Homo sapiens: one gene and its partners. The gene in region 3 interacts genetically with the main gene of each other region. Each region holds a gene or a part of one and is shown on either strand. Other genes may lie near its edges. The genes, in order: ATG10, KRAS, LSM5, RIT1 and EGFR.

Evidence for each region.
Region 1: of LSM5 (region 3) and ATG10, changing one enhances a phenotype caused by changing the other (phenotypic enhancement), as found in Homo sapiens cells (one large-scale study listed by BioGRID).
Region 2: changes in LSM5 (region 3) and KRAS are lethal when combined (synthetic lethality), as found in Homo sapiens cells (3 studies listed by BioGRID, with this or other methods).
Region 4: changes in LSM5 (region 3) and RIT1 together harm fitness more than expected from each alone (negative genetic interaction), as found in Homo sapiens cells (one large-scale study listed by BioGRID).
Region 5: changes in LSM5 (region 3) and EGFR together harm fitness more than expected from each alone (negative genetic interaction), as found in Homo sapiens cells (one large-scale study listed by BioGRID).

The regions. Positions count from the first base shown.
Region 1 is NC_000005.10:81,975,003-81,978,523, reverse strand, and holds part of ATG10 (ubiquitin-like-conjugating enzyme ATG10), read right to left. Parts: intron 2,332-3,521; exon of another isoform or gene 2,197-2,331; intron 196-2,196; exon of another isoform or gene 1-195. UniProt on the Homo sapiens protein: E2-like enzyme involved in autophagy. Acts as an E2-like enzyme that catalyzes the conjugation of ATG12 to ATG5. ATG12 conjugation to ATG5 is required for autophagy. Likely serves as an ATG5-recognition molecule. Not involved in ATG12 conjugation to ATG3.
Region 2 is NC_000012.12:25,209,414-25,212,934, forward strand, and holds part of KRAS (GTPase KRas), read right to left. Parts: intron 2,766-3,521; coding exon of another isoform or gene 2,765-2,765; intron 499-2,764; coding exon 382-498; 3' UTR 1-381. UniProt on the Homo sapiens protein: Ras proteins bind GDP/GTP and possess intrinsic GTPase activity. Plays an important role in the regulation of cell proliferation.
Region 3 is NC_000007.14:32,487,576-32,491,804, forward strand, and holds the start of LSM5 (U6 snRNA-associated Sm-like protein LSm5), read right to left. Parts: upstream 2,806-4,229; 5' UTR 2,791-2,805; coding exon 2,745-2,790; exon of another isoform or gene 2,450-2,744; intron 1,770-2,449; coding exon 1,674-1,769; intron 1,078-1,673; coding exon 1,050-1,077; intron 183-1,049; coding exon 110-182; intron 1-109. UniProt on the Homo sapiens protein: Plays a role in pre-mRNA splicing as component of the U4/U6-U5 tri-snRNP complex that is involved in spliceosome assembly, and as component of the precatalytic spliceosome (spliceosome B complex).
Region 4 is NC_000001.11:155,897,308-155,901,349, reverse strand, and holds the end of RIT1 (GTP-binding protein Rit1), read left to right. Parts: intron 1-731; coding exon 732-962; 3' UTR 963-3,542; downstream 3,543-4,042.
Region 5 is NC_000007.14:55,200,504-55,204,024, reverse strand, and holds part of EGFR (epidermal growth factor receptor isoform a precursor), read right to left. Parts: intron 2,838-3,521; coding exon 2,670-2,837; intron 2,291-2,669; coding exon 2,243-2,290; intron 1,509-2,242; coding exon 1,400-1,508; coding exon of another isoform or gene 1,260-1,399; exon of another isoform or gene 949-1,259; intron 1-948. UniProt on the Homo sapiens protein: Receptor tyrosine kinase binding ligands of the EGF family and activating several signaling cascades to convert extracellular cues into appropriate cellular responses.

The DNA of each region.
Region 1 (3,521 bases), on a different chromosome or scaffold from region 3:
TCCACAGCTCAAACTCTCTTGCTGCCTTTGAACAGTGGGTAGTAGGACTAGTACAACAAACTCTAGTCAGCACATATGCCAAGTATCCAGAATTAGGAAATAAGGAGATAATGGGGTATCCTTGGCCAAAAGTATCCAAAAAATAAGAAGAGACAGAAAGGAGCAGTGGCTCATGCCTGTAATCCCAGCATTTTGGGAGGCCAAGGTGGATGGATCACCTGAGGTCAGGAGTTTGAGACCAGCCTGACCAACATGGTGAAACCCCATCTCTACTAAAAATACTAAAATTAGCTGGGCGTGGTGGCGGGCACATGTAATCCCAGCTACTTGGGAGGCTGAGGCAGGAGAATTGCATGAACCTGGGAGGCAGAGGTTGCAATGAGCTGAGATCATGCCATTGCACTCCAGCTTGGGCGACAGAGCAAGACTCCGCCTCAAAAAAAAAGACCAACACAATATCAGAAGCTACAGAATCAGTGCCAGTCTGAATACAGATTACAGAGCAAAGTGTCTTTAAAATATACTACCAAGTGCCATATTTTTATTTTGGAAAATAAAAAAAGGAAATGGTTGGACATTTTTGTAATGAAAGGCACATTCCCTTTAAATTTTTCTTCTTGCAAAAGTCTTTGTTCAGAGATGAGACTAATGTGCCTTCTATTTCCACAAGTTTTTCATTCATTCACTCAGTACCTACAATACCCTAGTGCTTGCTGTGAGTGTCCTCCTAGAAAAGAATGTCAAACTTCCTGGCAAAACTGGGGAAGACTCCAAAACTTGGAGTTCTGAACACATGAATTCAATTCTTGAAGAAATGAATTTTGAAATTTGAGTAAGGGCCAACCAGGTGGAGACAAAGTCACTCCAAAAAGATTGAGGAGCTCCTGCAAAGACAGGGTCTGAAAAGAATGCAAGGTTTAAAAATAAAACAAATGTCAGTGGATGGAGCATAGCTCGGGTGGAGAAGAGTATGGGCAAATAAGGTCTAATGGTTCCCAACTTTATGGGGAACCCGCTCTTCAAGGGGCTGCTTGGAAATAAATGGGATCATATTGGATTGTTAAAAAGAAGTTAGAGTTTGCCATTGCCATTTAGTGCTGAGGGACCAGGTAAAATAAACATCCTACAATGTACAGGACAATCCCACACAGTGAAGAGTTGTCTGTAAAAATGCCAGTAGAGCTCCCTTTGAGAAATACTGGGAAGTAGGTAAGGAATTAACAAAGTCTAGAGAATTTAACTCTAGGGCCTCAGCGTATCCTTTAAAATCTGTGATCACAATCTCCATTTCACTCACTAAATATTTACTAGGTGCTAAAAGATAAACCAAGGCACATTAAAATTTTAAAGGATTTATTTGAGGTCAGGCAAAGTAATCCTAGCACTTCGGGAGGACAAGGCAGGTGGATTGCCTGAGCTCAGGAATTCAAGACCAGCCTGGGCAAATGGTGAGATCCCGCCTCTACAAAAAAATACAAAAATTAGCCTGGCATAGTGGTGCATGCCTGTAGTCCCAGCTACTTGGGAGGCTGAGGTGGGAGGATAGCTGGAGCCCAGGAAATTGAGGCTGCAGTGAGCCATAACTGCACTACTGCCCTCCAGCCTGGGCGACACAACAAGATACTGTCTCAAAAAACAAAAACAAGAAAATGTTTATTTAAGCAGACAATGGTTAACCCATTTATGCTGGAGGTTGCAAATTTTTTTTGTGAAAAATCAGACCTTGGCGATGACCATGAGCAGGATATAAATAACTCCCACAAGCTTAGCGTTCCAATAATGGAACACTAGGCATATTAATGAATTGGTCAGCTCCAGAATGCAAGCAATATGGGGCTGCACCAAAAGGACACAGTTAGAAGGCTTTTGAAGAGTGAACGGCAGAAGCAAGGCCAAGAAAATCTGTGATTGGTCAAAGTGGAGTAGCCTTACTTGGATCATTCCAGTAAAAGTCAGTGGTTAGAGGTTAGTTGATGGTTTCTGATTGGTTAAGCTAAAGTTTCATTTTCCTAGAATACAACCATTTACACTGAGTTTGGTGTAAGTCTGTTTATGTAGGAACCCAGGGCACTGGAGCTTCCTCAGGCAATGGCCTCCCAATTAATTATTTTAACACAGGAAGCTGTTTTTGCTGGGCAATAAATATGTTTCCTTCTTTCCTTTGACCACCATGAAGCTTGGAACTTTGTGGCCTACCTTTAATAACTGTACAACAGGCCGGGCGCAGTGGCTCACGCCTGTAATCCCAGCACTTTGGGAGGCCGAGGCGGGCGGATCACGAGGTCAGGAGATCGAGACCATCTTGGCTAACACGGTGAAACCCCGTCTCTACTAAAAATACAAAAAAAAAAAAAAATTAGCCGGGCAAGGTGGCGGGCGCCTGTACTCCCAGCTACTCGGGAGGCTGAGGCAGGAGAATGGCGTGAACTCGGGGGCCGGAGCCTGCAGTGAGCCGAGATCACGCCACTGCACTCCAGCCTGGGCGACAGAGTGAGACTCCATCTCAAAAAAAAAAAAAGATAAAATAAATAAATAAATAAATAACTCTACAACATTCACAGTATATTTTCAGTATAACTCACCCTAATCACATCTTTCTATTCAAGCTTCATATTTTTATGATCTTGATTCTCTTTATTTTGTATGTTATTATATATTATATAGTTTAAGCTACCTCAAATACTTTTGGAACAAAATTGAGTTTAAATTTAAAACTCTAAGCTACAAAAGTACAATAAAAAACAAAAAAGAAAAAGAAAACTAGATAGTAAGATGGGAAGAAAAAAATATTACACTGAGCCCCCAAATCATCCTGAGAGGTCTGAGACACTTTTTTTTTTTGAGAGGGGGGTCTCACTATGTCACCCAGGTTGGAGGGCAGTGATACCATCTCAGCTGACTGCAACCTCCACCTGCCAGGCTCAAGCAATCCTCCCGCCTCAGCCTCTTGAGTAGCTGGGACCACATGTGTGCACCACCATGCACAGCTAATTTTTTGTATTTTTTGTAGAGACAGGGTTTTGCAATGTTGCCAAGGCTGGTCTCAAACTCCTCAGCTCAGGCAATTTGCCTGCCTCAGCCTCCCAAAGTGCTGAATCACAGGCATGAACCACTGTACCCAGCCTTGGTTTAAGAGACTTTCAAAAAGAAGTATAATACAGTCTTTGCCTTCAATAGTTTGTAACCAAATATTTTTTTATTTTTCAGAATACACATTCTTCTCAAAGTAATCAAATTTTTAAGTAAAGATTCACATTGAAAAGAACATCAGAGAATAATGGATAACAAAAAACAGTGATAAATTGTACAACCACTGTTTAAAGAATTAGTATGGATTAAAATAATTAAAATTGCATATATTACTATGTATTAAGAACTAGTAACAAATCCTCAGAGCAACTTTTTGAGGTAAATTACTAGGATTTTCTTTATTTTATAGATAAGGAAATTGAGACAGAGAGGGTAACTTGTCCAAGGTAACACAGCTGTTAAGTGTAGTAATTTGACCTAAGGAAGTCTGG
Region 2 (3,521 bases), on a different chromosome or scaffold from region 3:
TTATGTGACTAGATAAAACACAGAATAGGGATGATTCAAAAGCTTCATTAATTTGTTTCACACCAACATTCACAATTGGTAAGAAAAATAAGAAGTAATCAACTGCATGCACCAAAAGCCCCAAGACAGAAATCTTAGGTATTCAGTTTCTTTTTCACAGGCATTGCTAGTTCAAAAACCAAAACTCTGGGAATACTGGCACTTAGAGGAAAAAAAAACTTCCACTGTCATTTTAAAATAAGCATTTAAGGTAAAAGCTAACAGTCTGCATGGAGCAGGAAAAAAATTAGGTAATGCTAAAACAAATGCTAATAATTTAGTGTAATGTACAAAAATTACCACTTGTACTAGTATGCCTTAAGAAAAAAGTACAAATTGTATTTACATAATTACACACTTTGTCTTTGACTTCTTTTTCTTCTTTTTACCATCTTTGCTCATCTTTTCTTTATGTTTTCGAATTTCTCGAACTAATGTATAGAAGGCATCATCAACACCCTGAAATACATAAAAAGTATTAAAATGTGAATATATACGATGGCTTCATGTGTACAGGTAACAAATTTCATTAATGGAAAAAATATTAAGAAAGGATTCTTTATGTTTCTCTTCAGGCAACTGAATATATATTACATATATTAGGACTTTTAGAATTCTTAAATGTCATCCGCATAGGTGTTTTGTCAATATTATAAACAGGAACACTAATTTTCACAAAAGACAAGGATAACCAATGGCACAGAATTTTAAATAAGGTAACGACTTTTTCACAGGAGAACTTAATTTGCTACTATTTTTTCCACATTGGCAAACCTAAGTCATCAAAATCCAAATGCATGTGTGTGTGTGTACACTTAATTGTCCTTATGTTTCTGGACTTTAGATATAAGCCATGCAACTGTAAACTATGTTCATATATCTTCACACACAGTAACAGTATTTGAGCTCCAGTTCTATACTTACGTAAAATCCATTGGATTTAAAAATTTACCAAGAAGTAAACAGTATTCGAACATCCTATTCCAATAATTTATCAACAAGTAAACAGTATCTAAACATATTATTTCAGTTTTCAAATGATATATATTAAGGGATTAGTTTCAATTCATATATTTATCATTAAGAAAAAGGTTTAAAGTGACCCCAACACAGGAGAATACCACTTTAAAAAAAACACTAATACCTCAGATTTGTGGAGAAATTAGCTAAATCATTTGAAAGGTCTTATAGTTTACCAATTTGGAGGAGATTCTTTCTATCCCATAAAGTTTTAATTTCTGTTGTATTCAAAAGCTTGCCATATAAAGCCAAATATCCTGTCTTCAAAGAGTTTAACAGTTAGTCATTGTGACCACCATCTATTTATGATTAAAGCAAGGTTATTTAAATTTAATGGCTAAAAGCGATTTTAAGCCATAATACTTTTCAACCTAATAATCTACAGTGTGAAAAATGGCACTCTCAAACTGGTAGTAGATTTTAAACCTGCAGTACTTAAATTATGCAAGATCCATACACAAGTCAATTCTTGTCATGTCTCCAATTAAAAGAAAAATATAAATAAAAGCAAAAAATGAAGAAAAAATATGATTCTCTCTGTATTTTAAAGCCTGTTCAACTGAGTAGTAACTATAAAAAGAAAATCTGTTAACCTCACAATACTTCCAAACCTAGACAGCAGAGGGAGTCTTAGAAACAAATACCCAACACATTAAGTTGTATAAATCAAGCCACTTTAGGAACAATGAAAACTGGGTTTTTACTCATTGTAATCACTTTGTAGGATATTATAAACTGTGTAAATAAATGTATTAAAAAAATTATATGTGTAAAAATATTCAAGTGATATTATCTTGAAATTAATTTAAAATGTTAAGTGGGCGGGGTGCGGTGGCTCAAGCCTGTAATCCCAGCACTTTGGGAGGCCAAGACGGGTGGATCACTTGAGGTGAGGAGTTTCAGACCAGCCTGGCCAACATGGTGAAACCCTGTCTCTACTAAAAATACAAAAATTAGCTGGGTGTGGTAGCAGGTGCCTGTAATCCCAGCTACTCAGGAGGCTGAGGCAGGAGAATTGCTGAACCCGGAGAGGCGAAGTGCATTGCAGTGAGCCGAGATAGCACCACTGCACTCCAGACTGGGTGACAGAGCATGACTCTGTCTCAAAGAAAAAAAAACAAAAAATGTTAAGTGGTATTTCTCCTTTACTGTACTACTAAGATTAACGATATTTCAAAATAAATCTGGAGCATGAACAATGAAAATTAGCTACAGTTCATGAATTTTCCTAATAGATCTATAATTCAAGAAAGCGTGACCAATATTTTAAGAGAGGTAAACATAGAATGGGAATAAGAGGCTAGTCCACATTAAGCAAACAGTAGGATAAAAACCAGCATTATTTATTTGAGCACTAGTGAAAGTCTCCAATAAAGTCCCCAAACTGCACTCACTGATGTTTCCCACTCTCTAATATCATTACTGATACTACACAAACATATGCTTTTGTTTCTCCCACAGGAGAAAGGAAAAGTGGTAAGAAATAATTTATCAGCAATACAATACCATCAAGGTTTGATTACATATATGTATGTGTATGTATCCCTTCAGGCTAAACTCTTTAACACATATAGAGGGGAAAATTTCCAATGATACAATAAAAATTATTCTGTAGCTTGCCAGCACTTGACAATTTACTTGACAGTTTAGAATCATAAACCCTTAGAATGTGATAGAATCTTAAAAGAGGATCTAACTCCCTTACCCTGAATGAATAAATTCCCTCTGATCACATCCTTATGTAATCTACTCCATTTCTACTACTTTTACAATGAAGAAAAATGCCAATGGTACTAAAATGGTAAAGCAGAAAACAATGAAAAACCATGTGATGGACACAGAGAAGACACATTTTATGGTGAAAACACAGAATTTGAAAACATTACTTCCTAAGATTCTGACAAAGATTCTAGGCTTATGTTGCAATGAACTCTCCTCTCTACATCATCTTGTTAAAATTAAGTAATTTTGGCCCAGTGCAGTGGCTCACACCTACAGTCACAGCAATTTGGGAGGCTGAGGCAGGAGAACTGCTTGAGGCCAGGAGTTTGAGACCAGCCTGGGCAACACAGCAAGAACCTGTCTCTATTTTAAAAATAAATAAGTAATAAAAAAAAATTAATTAATTTCAATCGTGAAGGAAATGTCACAACCTACACAGAGCAATGAATTCTTTTTTTCTCATATGAGAACTAATCATTCTCACACATACACATAACATTATCTTTTTCAGGACTAAGAAAAGCTAATTTATATATGTTTATCATTGTCAAATTTTTATTTATGTATTTATTTCCTAAAGGTGGGGTCTCATTACGTTGCCCAGTCTGGTCTTAAACTCCTGGCCTCAAGCAGTCCTCGCGCTGTGGACTCCTAAAGTTCTGGCATTATAAGTGTGAGCCACTGTCCCTGTGCCAAAATTTTTTTATTTTTACTTTTTTTAAGAGATGGAGTCTCTTTCT
Region 3 (4,229 bases):
ACTGGGCCATGATCATTTAGTCAAGCAAGCAACATTAAGGTTAGTTCTGTAATCACTGCTCCCCAAAAATGGGCTCCCATCAAAATAAAACAGTTTCAATGTGTCTTACCATTGTTATATTATTTCCATTTAGCAAAATCTGATCTAATTTAGTAATCCTTCTTCCTTCTGGTGTGATTTCACTAAATGAATAGATAAAATACAGTCAGGACAAACAGTGAAAATCAAAGCCAACATTTTGGAAATACTTACCCTCCCTAAAAAGGTTATCCTTGTATACAAATTACACTGAGGTTGAGCAATTATATCCACAATTTTCAGATACAAAGGTTATCCACTAGGTAATGTAACCTTCATTAAAAGCAGCAGAATGAACTCACTGACACTAAGACCCACGTCTATCAGACAGAGCTTCATAAAAAGAAGTGAAAGCTTGCCCAGGAAATCAAATATGAAATGAAATGTTTTTTGGGTTTTTTTTTTTTTAAGAGACAGGGTCTTGCTCTGTTGCCCAGGCTGAGTACAGTGGTACAATCATAGTTCACTGCAGCCTAGAACTCCTGGGCTCAAGGGATCCTCACCCTCCAGAGCAGCTAGGACTACAGCTGCCCCCTACTATAACCAGCTAATTTTTAAATTTTTTATAGAGACAGGGGTCTCCCTTTGTTGCCCAGGCTGGTCTCAAACTCCCAGGCTTAATCCTCCTCCTTTGGCCTTCCAAAGTGCTAGGATTACAGGAATGAGCCACCATGTCCAGCCTAAATGCTCTTACTATCAGTTCCTTTATTTGACCTGAACCCTAAAATTCCTGGCTCTTTTTGTTATCTTCTACCTTAAAACTGTGTCTCCACTAATATTCTAGGCGTTTACTAATAATTACATTAAGGTAATAACACTCTGATCCAATTTTACAAGCAAACAGATAAAACGTCTATCTTTAACGTTATTCCACCAAGAGGTAATGTTTTCTCATAAATAATTTTACTCAAAAGTAGTAAAACTGTCTTTAATTAAGAAGAGATTCCCCCCAATTCTTTAACACTACTCACAACTCAGTGACATCTTCCAGTACCATATCTGAAATTTGGTGTTAAGAAAATAAATACAGAATTTACTCTAGCTTCTGCCTTTGTTCAGCTTTTGTTTTTTGTTTTTGTTTTTGTTTTGAGACAAAGTCTCGCTCTGTCATCCAGGCTTAAGTGCAGTGGTACAATCACACCTCACTGCAGCCTCCACCTTTTAGGCTTAAAGGATCCTCCTGCCTTAGCCCCGGAGATTAGCTGGACCCACAGGTGTACATCACCATGCCCAGCTAATTTTTGTAATTTTTGTGGAGACAGGGTTTCATCATCTTGCCCAGGCTGGTCTCAAACTCCTGGGCTCAAGCGATCCACCCACCTCGCCCTCCCAAAGCGCTGGGATTATAGGCGTGAGCCACTGGGCTCGCCTGTTCAGTTTTAATTACAATGTTTAATACAATGGCTCAAATTCAAAATGCTTGTTGTTGATAGGAACTTTACCGTCTTTCAATACATACCTCTTAAAACATTATCATAAGTTCCCTGAGAATGAACTGATTTTTATTATAATAATCACAAATATACTGATTGTCTATAGTTCTTATGTTATTACTTAAGAAAAACCTATACCACCACCACCTTTTAAAAGGATACTGACAAAGTCATCAAATCCTAGAAGAGTACCAACAATTTCCTTATCACTCTTCATCACGATGTGAATTCTTGATCCTATACATTTGTCCACAAGCTCTGAGGAGGGAAAAAATATTATTTTACCATTCATTATTTCAACAAATATTTGAGTGCCTACTGGCACTCTTACTTGCATATAGTGAAAGAAAAACCAGGAAAAACATTCATTCAATAACTTTAGGTCTTATAATACAAATCTCAGTTCAAGCACAGCATCTGGCACATAATGAGCCTTCCAAAAGAGTCTGTGGCATGAAGGAATGAAAACTTTTCAATCACGGCCACGACCACTAGTTCAATCACTCTTCACCAACTACAAAAATATAAGAGGAGATAGGTATAATTATATTCACCGGAAACTCTCCGGTCACTGCTTCCCTTTCCCAACTCTGTCTATCCTCTGTGCTCTGACGGTAGCTTGAACATCTCTTTAGCTAGCCTAGCATTATGTGGCATGATGTCTACTTGTCCAGTGTTCTCTCCTCCACTGGCTTGTGTGCTATTTGAAGGCAATGGCTATGGTTTATCATTGAAAAATGCCCAGGCACGGTATCTAGTGTATAGATACTCAGTTACTACTTATTGAATGAATAAATAACAAACAGAGCTGGTTTCCAGATTCCTCATTTAAGGCTCATTCCGGACCAGGGTGTTAGTGTCACTAACCAACCACATACATAACATGGTCTATCTAATCTGGGGATCGTAAACGCCAGGCTGAGAAGTAGGCCTACTACCTATAACACTGCAGAGGCGGGCTCACAACAAAGTAGGCCGACGACGCGTTCACTAAATGTGGACCTTTTCCAGTGAAGGTCTGGTTTGAGAAGTCAAAGTCCTTGCCTGGAGGAGCCCGACCACGTTAAAGAGCAGGTGCGGCCTGCTGTCGCGAAGACTTGGAGCTCAGAGTCGAACCGCATTTGGTCTTATACATTTCCCCACACTCGGCCAGGGCCTGCCTCGGAACAGCCCCTCGGCCCCCAATCCTGAATGTCAGCTCCCTGTTCCTGCTCCCCAAAGGACGGCGATTACCTAAGGGCAGCAGCTGCGACGGGTTGGTAGTAGCGTTAGCCGCCATGGCTACGCCGGAAGTGGCCTGCCTTCATTGATGGTGGGACGACTTTGAAAAGCGCGCTTCCGCTTTTTCCGCAGCCCAAACAGGCTCGACCAATCTGAGGCCGAGCGCACGATCTAGTCAGCTGCGTGGGTCGCGTTCACTGGCTTTTTTCCCCGGCAAGTGAGATCCGGTGAAATATTTCCTGCCCACTGGACATTTTACCATCTCGGCAGATACCCATAATGCCCTTGAAGTTTTGGAGAGACGTTGAAGATATTTTGCCTTGTGAATAAATTGTTCCTGTAACGTTTGAGTCTTCTTCCCCCGTAAAGTTGCATTTCCTCTCAAGCCAGAATCTTCAAACCAGTATAAATCAATTCGTATTTCCTGCCATCAATTAACTGTTACAATTTTCGTTACAACTACTCATTAAGGAATCTATTGTTTCTTTTTAAAGTCCAGTGGATTGAAAATCTGCAACTAGCATTTTTTAAAATTTTTCTTTAGTGAGGATTTAAGATATGTTTTTTAAACTTTTTACTACTTTAATTCATCGTTCTTATCTTTTTATGTCTGGTAGTCTTATTTATTATAGGCTTTTAAATTCAGTTTCTTCAACAATTCTTGTCTCACAGGCAACCACCAGATGTCACTCTAAATTATTCCAGAAGTGTAAAATCATGCTTTCCACTTCTGTGTTGAAAACAGCAAAGTATCGGCCCTAGTCTGTTTTATATTTGTATCCTAGGAACTTAAACCTGAACAGTCTAGGTCAGGCGCAGTGGTAACGACTGTAATCCCAGCACTTTGGAAGGCCGAGGCGGGCGGATCACCTGAGGTCAGGAGTTCGAGACCAGCCTGGCCAACATGGGTGAAACCCCGTCTCTACTAAAAATACAAAAATTAGCTGGGCGTGGTGGCGTGCGCCTGTAGTCCCAGCTACTCGGGAGGCAGAGGCAGGAGAACTGCTTGAACCCGAGAGGCAGCGGTTGCAGTGAGCCTAGATCATGCAACTGCACTCCAGCCTGAACAACAAGAGCGAAACTCCATCTCAAAAAAAAAAAAAAAAAAAGCTAAACAATAAACATGAGCGGCCACAAAGAACGTCATTCATTCATACAACAAATGGTCATTAAGCACCCATCATTCCTTCATAGACTGAGTTCCTCAAGGCTGAGAATTATGGGAAGCAGTAGTTTACGTGATTAAATTTCTTCATTTTGAATTAAATGACTTTGGTTCAAATTCCATGGTCAGTTATTTGACAATGGGCAAGTTATTTTAACTTTTTAAGTCTCAATATACCCATTGGAAAAAATGGGGACAACAGTATCTACTCATAAGATTAATGTGAAGATTAATTGAGATAATCTATGAAAAGTGGTCAGCATAGGACCTGGCACATAGCCCTTTTAAACATGAGCTGTTATTACTTATCCTTGTTTTCTAATACATGATGT
Region 4 (4,042 bases), on a different chromosome or scaffold from region 3:
TTTTAAAAATTTTGTAAAAGTAGGGTCTCACCATATTGCCCAGCTTGGTCTCAAGTTCCTGGGCTCAAGCAATCCTCCTACCTTAGCCTCCCAAAGTTCTGGAATTACAGGTGTGAGCCACCAAGCCCAGCCTATTTATCTTTCTTAAAATAAAAAGTATGGGGAAAATTAAGATTGTGTATTTGATATCTAAAACTATTCCCTGTTCCAAAAAGTATCTTAAAAATAGACTAGAGACCGGGCACAGTGGCCGACGCCTGTAATCCCAGTACTTTGGGAGGCCGAGGTGGGCAGATCACCTGAGGTCAGGAGTTTACAACCAGCCTGACCAACATGGAGAAACCCCGTCTCTACTAAAAATACAAAATTAGCCAGGTGTGGTGGCGCATGCCTGTAATCTCAGCTACTCAGGAGGCTGAGGCAGGAGAATCACTTGAACCCGGGAGGCCGAGGTTGTGAGCCACAATCATGCCATTGCACTCCAATCTGGGCAACAAGAACGCAACTCTGTCTCAAAAAAAAAAGTAGACTAGAAATAGAATCATATCATTTGAAGGCAGAATAAGAAACCTTAGAAGTAATCTAGCCTAAAATTACAAAAATTAGTGCTGTATGCTTGAACACCTCCAGAATTGAGAAGCTTTCTTTGTGTTAAGGTGGTGGTGCATTCAGGTTTTTGGACAATTTAATTGTTTTTCACTGTTATCTTTTCTCACATTTTGCCCTTAAAGGTCACCAAGGAAGAAGGATTGGCCTTGGCCCGAGAATTCAGCTGTCCCTTTTTTGAGACATCTGCTGCATACCGCTACTATATTGATGATGTTTTCCATGCCCTTGTACGGGAGATACGTAGGAAAGAAAAGGAGGCAGTACTGGCCATGGAGAAAAAATCTAAGCCCAAAAACAGTGTATGGAAGAGGCTAAAATCACCATTCCGGAAGAAGAAAGATTCAGTAACTTGAAGAGAAGATGTGAAGTGTTTATCTGTGAACTGCAGTGCTGTATCAAAGCAGTCCAGTAACCTGCAGTACTGAGTATGGTGCTTGCTCTTTCACTTAACTGATAAGAGGGACATGCCTACTAGGAGTTTTTAATGATGTGGTATTTAAAGTATTGTCTCTTAGTTAAGTATGATTTATTAACCCAGTGGAGCACTGTCTGCTTTTAAATTGTCACATTAGAATTTGTTCTACCAATGTTTTGGGTTCTGTTGCGCTATTAATTAATGTAAATTTGTTTATACCCAGGAGAATATGTATACCATGTGTGTTTGACTAAGTTCACAAGGGAAGTTTTTGGCTCTGCACTCCACATTATCCTTTAATTTCAATTTCCTGGGACTATCCCAGAGAAAGACCTCAGTCTCTTCTATTCACACTATGCTTCCTAGAGACAGAACAAAAATCATGTAGGGAAATTGGGGCTAATGAGATCAGTGCCAAATTTCAGCAGATACCTGTGAGGCTGACACCTGTTGCAGACTATGGAGTGGTGAGATTTGGGAAAGTTGGGCTATATGTTTGCAGGGACTTAAAAAGGTAGGTTCAGAACAGTATTCTCAGTACAAGCTTCGCTTTTCTAAGAAGTACACATTTGGCCCAAATTCACCGGGATAAGTGAGAACAGCCAGAAGCATAAAATGTGATGAAGGTTTCTCCTGGGAACCTTATTTTACTCTTCATTTCAGGGTTTTCTTTTTTTTTTTACCTTCAAAGGTAGACATTTTGGGAATCATAACTGTATTACTAAACGTGTTTAATCAAAATTCATAGTTGGATCAGCCATTGCCTTGTACAGGTTTATTTTTTCCCCACAGACGCACACACCAACACATTTATATTCATTGCTTCCTCCCACTTTGTGCTCTGTAAAAGAGCTACAGCTGGCAAGATGTTTTTTCGGCCCTTCATCACTGATTGCATTTTCCATACAGAAGAGACATCAGGGGTGTGGGTAAAATTGTGTGTGTGCCTCCTTGACGTGGACAATCACTAGACTCAGTGCTCTGAGAAAATCTGCTATTTCTGTTGAATGGGTCAGTCTTAAAGCTTTAAAATTCACATAGGTGGAGTTTCCCATCTGAAGATTTCTTTACAAGGACTTTGCTAAGTTCATCTCAGGGTTATCTGAGCCTTGACCAAGTTTATCCTAAGGGAATACCACTTTGCTCCCTGTGCATAGTTTAGGAACTGTAGTCCTAGGAGGAAACAGCTTTAAATATTGGTAGTGAGTTGTCTAAGATCAGGACTGTTTTGATATCTGACCTTGTTATATGCGGAGAGTAAATGCAAAAATGCTAAGAGTAATGCATCATGTATTGAATATTAAGTGTCACTGAAGCAATGTTTGTGTTGACTAGAAACGTAAGATGACTTGTGTAGCACCTCTTTATAAGCACACAGCTCATCTTAATATTTTCCATTTTTATTAGAGGAAGTAGGACAGAGTTGTGTTTTTCTTTATAAACAAATGATAAACTAGCTTTTTTAAAAAGTGACTGTTAGAACTTTTTTAGCTCTGAGTAGTGGTCCCTTTTTAAACTCCTGGAAACATTTTTGTTACCAAATAAATCATGTTTTATGGTACTCAGCCATCCAAAAGTGAAAGACCTAGCATTTGATTCTGTGCAGGACACAAATCTCACAGGAACTATAGCACTTTGGAAAAGCATCAAAGTAGAAAAGAAATACAGTGCAATTCTATTATGAGAATGTTTTACATTTAAACTGGTTTAGCACCTTTTAAGTTTAAAGCCCATAGCTTCTTATTACTAGTGACCTAGGGAATTGTTATTAACATTAAGAGATATATATATATATATATATATATATTTTTTTTTTTTTTTTTTTTTTTTTTTAAATAGAGATGAGGTTTCACTATGTTGCCCAGGCTGATCTCGAACTCCTAGGCTCAAGCAATCCTCCCAATATGCTGGGATTACAGGCATGAGCCACCACCTGGCCCAAGCAAGAAATTGACACTATATAGTTATTTAAGGTAGTCAGGCAGTAGAAACATTGCCAGAAGGATAGAAAGGAATTTGGATTATATATAAGGAAAATAACAAATCGGTGTTTTTAAGACTATCACTGTCATATATTAGATCCTTGTATTAGTCCATCCATTAATATTAGTTCTATTCGTGGTGCTAGGTAGCTTGACAGGTATGATATGCATAAGTCATAGCTCTATTCTTAGTGTCATAAAGTGTAGCTAATTTATAAGCTCTAAGTAATCAGCTTTATCTAATTTGAGGGCATTAAAATTACTGCCTAGAACTTTGAGAAGAGAAAAATTCAGGGATAAGTTGAAAGGCACTGGAACTGTTCATGTCCATACCAGACCGGTAAATTATAAGATCCAGATGTTAGTGTCTAGAATTAGCTGTTTAGAATTCAGAGGGGACATATGTTTTAACTTTGTCATATATTAGCAAGAATTGGTCTACTGTGATGTTTGGGGAGGAGGAGGGGGGGATAATTTTTTTAATGCACTTGTATGTGAAGACAGTTTGTATGACATAATACAAAACTTTTAAACAACTTGGGCTTTCCTTTGCTTCCCTATCAGTGGGTAGAGTTTTTGGAATCATTGCAAAAGAGTTGTTTTCAGAAAAACATAACCATGAGATGTGATATTCTGGAAAATATGAATTCAAAAAATTTGAGTGCCCACCATGAACAAGACACCCATGTCAAGTGCTAGGGAGCATGCCATGGAATCCCCCTTCATTTGAAGAGATTACCTCTTGGGAGGAGACAGGAAAAACACATATGGAAAATGACAGCACATTTGCTACCTGATCAAGGGTTACTTAAAGTTGTTATAAGTAAATACACTAAATGAAAAGTGAAAGAATGATTTTTTTTTTTTTTTTTTTTTTGAGACAGAATCTCGCTCTGTCGCCCAGGCTGGAGTACAGTGGCGCGATTTCGGCTCACGGCAAGCTCCGCCTCCTGGGTTCACGCCATTCTCCTGCCTCAACCTCCCAAGTAGCTGGGACTACAGGCGCCCGCCACCACACCTGGCTAATTTTTTGTAT
Region 5 (3,521 bases), about 23 Mb from region 3:
CTAACATATATATAACTTACATATGTTATATATCTAAATCTTTATATACATATAACATATGTATAAAGATTTCTACATATTTTTATATATAAAGATTTTGATATATATGACATAGATATTAGATAGCTAATAAACTACATATTAGATATATAGATATTAGATATTACATCAACATATATATAACATATGTTTTATATATATCTAAATCTTTATACATGTGTGTGTGGGGTGTGGGTGTGTATATGCACATACATATGTGTATGTGGTGTGTTAATGTGTGTTTCTGTGGTGTGTGTGGTGTGTCTACGTGTGTGTATGTGTGGTGCGTGTATGTGTGGTGTGTGTGGTGTGTGTATGTGTGTGTGTGGTGTGTGGTGTGTGTGTGTATGTGTGGTGTAGTGTGTATATGTTTGTATGTGTGTGCGGTTTTTGTGGTGTGTGTGTGGCGTATGTGTGTGTGGTGTGTGTATGTGTGGTGTGTGTGGTGTATGTGTACGTGTGTATGTAATGGTGTGTGTAGTGTATATGTGTCTGTGTGTATGTATGTGTGGTGTGTGTGTATGTGTGCATACATGTCTGTAGTGTGTGTACGTGTCTGTGTTGTGTGTTGTGTGTACGTGTGTGTGGTGTGTCTGTATGTATGTGTGGTGTGTATGTATGCATGGTGTATGTGTGTATATATGTGTGTATACGTGTGTGTATGTGGTGTGTGTGGTGTGTATATGTGTATGTGTGTGGGGTTTTTGTGGTGTATGTGTGGTGTGTGTATGTGTGTATACATGTATGTGTGTGTGGTGTGTATGTATTTGAGGTGTGTGTGTATATGTGTGTGCATGTGTATGTGTCTGTGTATGGTATGTGTGTGGTGTCTGTGTATGTGTGTGGTGTGTGTATATGTGTGTATGTGTATGTGTGTGTATATGTGTGTGTGTTAGCAGGTTATGAGTATCTGGATAAAGCTTAAAATTTATTAATATTAACTAATATTTAATTAGTTAAATATACGTTTCACAGGTCAAGATAGAGCCAGCAGAGAGAACAGGGATCAAATCTGTCACAAACACACACATACACACACACACATACACAGATGTACACACATCATGAACACTCACACACACAGATGTGTATGTCCGTGATTTGCTTCATAAGCTAGAAATTTTGCAGATTCATTCTTACAACAGAGGTACAGCAAACAACCAGACACAACAAAGAGCTTGTGCAGGCTCGGTCATGTGTTTATCTGCTCCTTACGCCCTTCACTGTGTCTGCAAATCTGCCACTGTTTCCCCCTCTGGAGATGCTGGAGGGAGCACCTGGCTTGGACACTGGAGACTGGCTGCTGCTGAGTGGGTCGAGGAGGTTGAGGAGCAGGACTGTTTCCAGACAAGCCACTCACCAGGCACTGGGAGGAAGGTGTCGTCTATGCTGTCCTCAGTCAAGGCGCCTGTGGGGTCTGAGCTGTATCGCTGCAAGAAGCTGTCTTCCTTGATGGGACAGCTTTGCAGCTGCAGGAGGAAATGAGGGAAGGTTACTCCGGTCAGGGCTGCCCCAACTTCAGTGTTTGCAAAAATCACCCGAGATCTCCTTGAGATGCTGGTTCTGATTAGTAGGTTGGGCAGGCCTGAGAGTCTGCACCCTGGTGGGTGCTGGTGCTACTGGGCCACAGGCTGCAGGGTGGGCAGCAGGGCTGTGCTGGGTGCTGTACAGCAGAACTTTCCGCAGTGAGGGAGGTGTGCTATGAGCGGTGCTCTTCAATACGGTCACCACTAGCCACGTGTGGCTACTGGACACTTCACATGTGTGAGAAACTGAATTTTATATTTTATTTCATTTTAACTCATTAACATTTAAGTTGAAGTAGCCACATGTGGCTAGTGGTTTCTGCATGGCACAGTGCGGTCTAGACCACGGCCTCACACTTCAACAGACATCAGCATCACCTGGAAAGTGGCTCAAACATAGACTACTGGGTGCCACCCCCAGAGGTCCTGATTTGGTCAAACTGGGGCAGTGGCCTGAAAAATGGCGTTTCTAACAAGGCCAGGCGATGCTACTACTGGTCCAGGAGTCACGCTTTGAACGGCACTGTGAGGCGTGACAGCCGTGCAGGGAAAAACCCACACAGGAAGAAAACTCAAGATTATCTGGGTTAAAATTATTTAGGTTAAGGCATTTTCCATGTAAAATAGAGCCATAGTGGAGAGCTGTAAATTCTGGCTTATAAGGTGTTCATACATACCCCATTTCTATCAATGCAAGCCACGGTGGAATTGTTGCTGGTTGCACTCTGAAAAAGAAACAGAGAAGTTGCCCATGGAATGCTTGTACCACATCTCATCCACTTTTCCTGAATGCAGGTGGTGTGCCTCATGGAGGGTATATTGTGAAGGTGTTTAATTTTTGTCTTAATCGTTAGTTTTAGAGCAACTAGGTTTAGTTTTGATTTAATTACATTCCATAGTGGACCTAAAAGGCTTACAATCAAGTTGTTGCAATGCAACAAAATAATTAATACACTTAATTTATTTTGATTTTGATTTTACCATTTGGTTAAAATTGACTTCATATCCATGTGAGTTTCACTAGATGGTTATTTTCCCTAAAATTCAATTTGTTCAAATGAGTAGACACAGCTTGAGAGAGAGAGAGAGACAGAGATTTCATACCAGAGAGCTCAGGAGGGGAGTCCGTGACGTGGAGGGGCTGCTGAAGAAGCCCTGCTGTGGGATGAGGTACTCGTCGGCATCCACCACGTCGTCCATGTCTTCTTCATCCATCAGGGCACGGTAGAAGTTGGAGTCTGTAGGACTTGGCAAATGCATTCTTTCATCCCCCTGGTGCAGAGATTTTGAGGCTATTAGAATGGCCCGTAGAGATGCTATTCCACTTCTTGGCTATAGGAGCAGGGGTCTATTGCCAGCAGGTGCCTGTGTGTTTGCCAATTTTGTTATAATGAAATCCCCCTTGGTTCTCTAAATTATAGCTGCCTCCCCTCATGACATGATGTGGGTGCCTTAAAATAAAACATGAACCATCCTTTGATGCTTGAAAGCCCCTACATGAGATTCAAATAGCTTCTGAGGAAACAGAAAGGGAAGAAGCTGCAGCATTCATCGAGTGTGCACCTTGCTGTGAGGTGTTAGGGAGCGTATTTTGCAACATATTTTATTGAATCTTTGAGACAATCCTGTGAGCTTGGTTTTGGTATTCCTGTGTTATGGAAGGAGATAGGTGGATCGGCTGCCTGGGTGATGCGAAGAAGTGGAGAGTCAGGGGTGTGAAGCCACGTCTGCCTGACACCAAAGCCCAATAGACCATGCTTCTCTCTTAGACCCAGCTGAGGCTTTGGCTAGCCGGACAGTGAGGACGAGCACCAGAGGAGAGTTCAGACGGGGAGGGGGAGATGGAGTTGGGTGGGCCCCACTCACGGATGCTGCTTAGTTCACGATGTGGCCTGCGCCTTACTGAGGCTTGCTCTAATGCGCTGGAGGGTTTAATAATGCGATCTGGGACACAGG